2 separate regions of the Homo sapiens genome follow, and region 2 is linked to region 1. Evidence: fine-mapped expression QTL. Tissue or cell type: skeletal muscle. Region 1 holds a variant in brackets; the other region holds the start of a gene. All regions are shown on one strand. Distances are from middle to middle.

Region 1 (2,840 bases):
AGAGGCTAGTCACGCGACTACCAGGTACTCCTGAAAAGGACCTTACCTTCAACGTGTGGTTCGGTCACACGGTAGGAAATCGAGGAATACGCTTAAATTACAGGGTGAGGAAATGCTTTGTAACTCTGACAGGGTCTGAGCTAAGACAGGATGCATAGAGGACTGAAGTCCTGACAAAAGGACAGGTGGAGGTCGGGCATGGTGGCTCACGTCTGTAATCCCAGCACTCTGGGAGGCCAAGGCAGGTGGATCACCTGAGGTCAGGAGTTCGAGACCAGCCTGACCAACATGGTGAAACCCCGTCTCTACTGAAAGTACAAAAATTAGATGGGTGTGGTGGTGCATGCCTGTAATCCCAGCTACTGGGGAAGCTGAGGCAGGAGAATCGCTTGAGTCCAGGAGGCAGAAGTTGCAGGGAGCCAAGATCATGCCACTGCACTCCAGCCTGAGCGACAAAGTTGTCTCAAAAAAAAAAAAAAAAAAAAAAAGAAGGTGGGGGCAGGTGGCTCACCTACAGCCTACAGCCATGTCCTGCTTCACAGACATTCAACCTGTGCAGCTGCTCCAGGCCCAGAGCCCACAAGGGCCCATGTGTGGTTTCATGTGCTGCTGTCACTGCCTTGAAATCCTTGGTAATTTGGAGCAAGGAACCCTGCATTTTCATTCTGCACAGGACCCTGCAAATTCCATCGCCTATGCTCTCTCCTCTCCTGCCTTGAGGCCAGGAACAAACCTGCCAGCCCCATGGGTCCCCCTAGCCTGAGGACACAGAGCCACCTAGCTTTTCTTTGCAGGGAGAGAGTGAGCAGGTGGGGCCCAGAAGTCCCTGGGCTGGTAGAGCTGCAGTTCCTTTCTTGAGCCTGCCCAGCTCTCTGCTCTGGGCAAAAAGCCCCAAGGTCCAGCCAGACAGAAATAGCTGGGACAAACGCCCTCGTCTTACAACCCAGCCCCAGCCACCAGCACCACACATGCAATTCATATCTTCTTCCCTGGGCAGAAAAGGCTGGGCGGCTGCCCTATTTCTAGGCAGAGAAACCTGCCTTCCTTCGCAAGGGCAACTTTGCCAGGGGGATGACGGGGAAGAGCAGGAGGTGGGGATCGGGACGGAGGGTGGGTACGTTACCCCCGGGCAGGGTGATGGGCCCGCAGGTCTTGCTGTCGTCCATGGGGATGCGCTTGGTACAAATCCGCCAGAGGCCGAAGTGGGCCGCCTCGCAGGTAGTGTTGTGGTGCTCCATGTGGGGGCTCAGCACAGCCCAGTGGTCGGTTACCACGGCTGTCATGGCCAGCACGATGCCTGCCAGGATGCAGAAGAGGGTCACGCGGACCTTCAGCATTTTGGTCTGGGACATGGTGGTCGCCGAGGCGTGGGTGCCCTGGGCAGGGTCCGGCGGCTGCGTCTCCTAGGGCAGGTGACAAGCCGAGCTTGGGGGGTGGCAGTGGTTGTCGAGCTGGGAGTGGCCACTAAGTTTAGTGTGCCTGGCTGAGCCAGAGTGGGCTGGCCTTGGGGCCGAGGGACGCGGGACGTGCTGAGCAGCTGCCCAGACGCGTCAGGGGCCTGAGGGAGGCTGCTATTAATGCCCATCTCCAGGCGTGGCACCGAGGACAGCTTCTGCTCGGGTTTCAGGGTTTTCTGCCCCTCTGGGAGCCAGAAATACCCCAGTGCGGCGGGGCAGGGTGGCAAGGAGAGAAGGCTCTGGATGGT[A/T]GATTGAGGCCTCTGTGAGTAGCAGCTCAGGGTGCCTGAGTTGGGAGAGGGCGAGAGGTGGGCAGCAGGGCCCCGGGGGTGGGGATCTGCCTGCTCTGGGCTGATGGGAAAGGGCAGCCCAGGCCAGGGGAGGAGACCAGGAGCTGCGGGCTGCACGGCTGTCCCGGGCTCCCACGGGGTAAGCCTGTTACCGGCAGGGCAGTGAGTAGGTTCTCATCCTGGGATCTGAGGGGCTAGGATTCTGTCTAATGACATCCCGGGAACCCAGTCCAGGGCCTGTGGAGTCCACCTCTTAGGCAAGCGTTTTAGCCACAAACCCCACGGCATCCCCCAAACCATAGGAAGGTTTTAGGTGGTTCCCAGGTCTGGCCTTACCCAACTCTGATCCCTCCACGAGAACATTACTTCCTTTTCAATTCTCTTTCCATCCCCAAAACTGGGTCCAGAGCAAAGCTCTGTTCGAGGTCAGTGTCATTATTGCCTGTAAAGTGTCCTTTGAAACAAAGCGAGAACGGCCCGAAGAGGACGAGGAATCCTGCTGGACTTGGTCATTCTGTTTTTCAGGGCACTGTTTGGTTTTGCCTTCTATTAACAGCAGGTGATAACGACTTTCCAGTTATGTTTGAATTTGAAAAATAAGTGTGTGAGTAAAAAAGAATGAATAGGTTGATTTATAGGGGATCATTAGGAGCTCATGGGCGTGCAGAGAACACAGAAAGCCCGGGATCGACCACCCTCCGACGGTCCTGTGCACCCGCCTGGCCCCCAGGCTGGTCTCCGAGGCTCCAGCCTCTACATCTCTCCTGGGTTGTGTCATCTCTTCCTTCTCGGCTCACAGGGTGGCCCTTTTTGGGTGTAGCCGAGAGGCTGACGCATGACCAGGAATAGCCTCCTGAGCTGGGTGGGGCCTTGAGCTTCAAAATCCTGGCCTCAGATTGACACGATTTACAGAGACTCTGCCCATGTGGACAGAAATGTTTCGGCCTCCAGCCTTAGAATCACAGAAAGTTCATGATGATGATAATCAGAACAGTGGCTCATCTTCAGTGAGTGCTTACTATCTACCAGGTACCCTGCTAAGCCTTCATCCATTGTCACAGTTACTCTTCACACCAATCCACAAGGGGACTACAAC
Region 2 (2,670 bases), 80 kb after region 1:
GGGGTCGCAGCGCCCAGCTCCGACGAGATGACCACGCCCCTCCCAGTCTGTTCCCGGTCCGCAGATCGGTCCTGCACACCCTAGTTTCCTACTGAGGTCTCCGCAGCCTCCCTGCTGAGGGGCCGCGACCGAGGTCGCTGTCTCCGTTGGGGGAGACTCGGTGTCGCTCCCCTTACCACCCCACCGCACAGCGAGGAGCGGGCCGGTGACTCCGTGGGAGACGAGGCGGGCGTCGGGCTGGGCCTACCCAGCTACCCTAGATCCGCTAGGAACTCAGCCCCTACCCCGGCTCCGACCGCGCCCCCGCCCCTACTTCTGCCCCTACTTCTGCCCCCACCCCTCAGCCCGAGCCTGTAGAAAGCGCCCAGCGGCACCGACGCGCCCCGCCCCCGGCCGGCCCCGCCCCAGGATGGCCAGTTCCCATAGCAATAGCACAGACACCGGTTGCCAAGCAACCCCTCCCCCCCTCCCGTCCGCTCCCCCCAACCCCAGCCTCCTCCCGCCCCCTCGCCAGCCTCCACCTCCCCCGGGGGTGCCGGCGCGGCCCCTGGGGATCGCTCGGGTCCCGGGCTACGCGCGCGTGCTTGAGTTTCGGTGTGTTTCATTGTGTCTGTGGGCGAGGGGGTGTGCGCGTGGAGAGTTTGTGGGATCGGTGTGCTGGGGAGGTCCCCAGCCGAGAGGGACCAGAGCTGATGTACAGCTGGCCGCGAAGGGACCCGCCCGCCAGCTCCGGCTCCTTTGTGTCTCGCGCGGAGCCAGCGCCGCGCCCACCCTCTCCCCGGCCCGCGCGCCGGGCAGTGTGTGCGCGTGTGTGTGTGTGCGCGCGCGCGCGCGCGCGTGTGTATATGTGTGTGTGTGTGTGTGTGTGTGTGGGGCGGCGAGGGGTCGGGGCTGGCCGTACCTTCGATGCAGCACACCCGCCACAGACCAGAGTGGGTGAGGTCGCCGCGGGCGCGGCGGGGCGGGGGCCCGTCGTCCATGGTCAGGTTGGTGCCGTTGCAGATGTGCGCGCTGGAGTACAGCCAGTAGTCGGTGCCGATGGCGATGGCCATGAGCGAGAAGGCGGCGAAGGCTCCGGCCGTGGTCAGCAGCATCTGCAGCCCGCGGTCGCATCGCACCATGGTGGGCGCCTCATAGTCCGCCGCCCGCCGGCCCGGCCCGCCGCGCCCGCCCGCCCTCCTCCCTCCGCGCGCCGCTCCGGGGGCGCCGGGGTTGGGGGGCCGAGGGCCGGGGGGCGGCGCCGCGCTGCGCGCTCCGACCCCGCGCCCCGGGCGTGCCTGCGCTCCGGCAGCGCTGGGGCTCAAACTCCGAGGCGCGGCGACGAGTGCGGGCTGCGCGGCCGCCGGGCGGGCTGGCGGCGGCGGCCGGGGGCTCCTCCCTCTCCGCTCGCCCTCCCCCCTCGGCCCGCGCCTCCGCCCTGCGCCCTCCGCGCCTCCCCCGCCGCCGCCGCGCTCCGGGTCCGCGCCCCGTTTCTCTCGGCGCCGCCCCTCGAGCCTCGGCCCCCGCCCGGCTGTGCGCTCCTCTGAGCTCCCCTCTCTCCCCAGCCAGGATTTTCTCCCCCTCGCCTCCCTTCCCCTCGCCTCCCCTCCCCTCCCTTCCCCTCCCCTCCCCGCGCCCGCGCGCGCTCTCTCTCTCTCCCAGAGTTCATTCACATTATTGGAGTGAAGGAAGCCGAGGGAAGTGTTCCCCAGGAGGACCGAAGGGAAAGCGCGTCTCCAGCCACCTCTCTTACCCGCCCAGGACATCCAGCCTCCCCTCCGACGGCCCTGCGGATTCTTTAATTTGTGGAGGAGGGCGTGGGTGGGTGTGTCCCTCCTTTCCCCTCTGTGCCTGTTCACCTGGTGATGAAGGTGAGTGTGGGAGTGCGTGTTCAGGTCAGAATTCCTGAAACCCCAGATGTGGGACACAGCTGCCAGACCCTGCAAGCCACGCCAGGCCCGGGCCAGGCCCCACCCCAACCCAGGTGGTTCCTGCTCCTCCAGATCCCCTTGCAGGGCCTGGAAGGACCCTGACTTGGGGTTGAGGGAGAAGGGCGATGACAGCGAGAAGTCCTTTGGGGAGAACACAGGGTCTCTGCTTTCTAGAGTGGTGGCAAGGCTGAGATTGAAGATGGGGCGTTCCTCTGTGCTCACATTTCTGAGGGTCTATTACTGCTAGAGTCCAGGGACACTCCAGTTGTGTTAGATTCCAACACTCCACCCGCCAGCCTTTTCCCTTTCTCTCCCAACCTTTCGCAATGCCTTTATTTCGTTTTGCCTTTTGCTCTGCTCGAGCTTAACCGGCTTTCCCTCCCCTGGCCTTTATTGTCAGCCTCTGACCCCAACCCCTGCTGGCTTCACTTAATTGCCTTTGCTGCTGGCCGTGATCCCAACCTGGACACACTCCCTTCTCCAGGGAGCCGGTCCGGACTCCTCCTTCCAGACCCAGCTCCAAACCCCTCCCTCCAGGAGGTTCTCAGAGCCCAGCATCAGGAGGTGCAGCACCCTTTGACATGTCCAGGTGGTCCTGTTGTTGGCATCCCTGGCTGCACTGGACCCCAGGATATGGAAAAAGGTATAGGGAGTGCTGCTATTCTTGCAAGACGAAGCTTAACTTTCTTTGTGGCACCTTCCCTGGTCCCCACTCCCCGTGTTGAAATCACTGTTCTCTGTCCCACAAGATTGTGAGCCT

Alleles and levels. Positions count from the first base shown, and alleles are read on the strand shown. Sizes are in standard deviations (SD) of each study's normalised expression.
As copies of A replace T in region 1, the expression in skeletal muscle of the gene that starts at base 1,326 in region 2 goes down (large effect, 1.3 SD a copy in GTEx).

What was found. PIP is the estimated chance that this variant, and not a neighbour inherited with it, causes the effect.
Region 2: it holds the start of CACNG4, and the variant in region 1 is fine-mapped to the expression of CACNG4 in skeletal muscle (GTEx, PIP above 0.99).

Annotation. Positions count from the first base shown.
Region 1 is chr17:67,043,173-67,046,012 of GRCh38, reverse strand. CACNG1 (calcium voltage-gated channel auxiliary subunit gamma 1) reads right to left here and starts at 1,459. Exons shown (of 4, transcript NM_000727.4): 1 at 1,124-1,459. The coding sequence starts at 1,352. The variant A/T (reference allele first, on the strand shown) is at 1,706.
Region 2 is chr17:66,963,363-66,966,032 of GRCh38, reverse strand. It overlaps CACNG4 (calcium voltage-gated channel auxiliary subunit gamma 4), which reads right to left and starts at 1,326. Exons shown (of 4, transcript NM_014405.4): 1 at 902-1,326. The coding sequence starts at 1,121.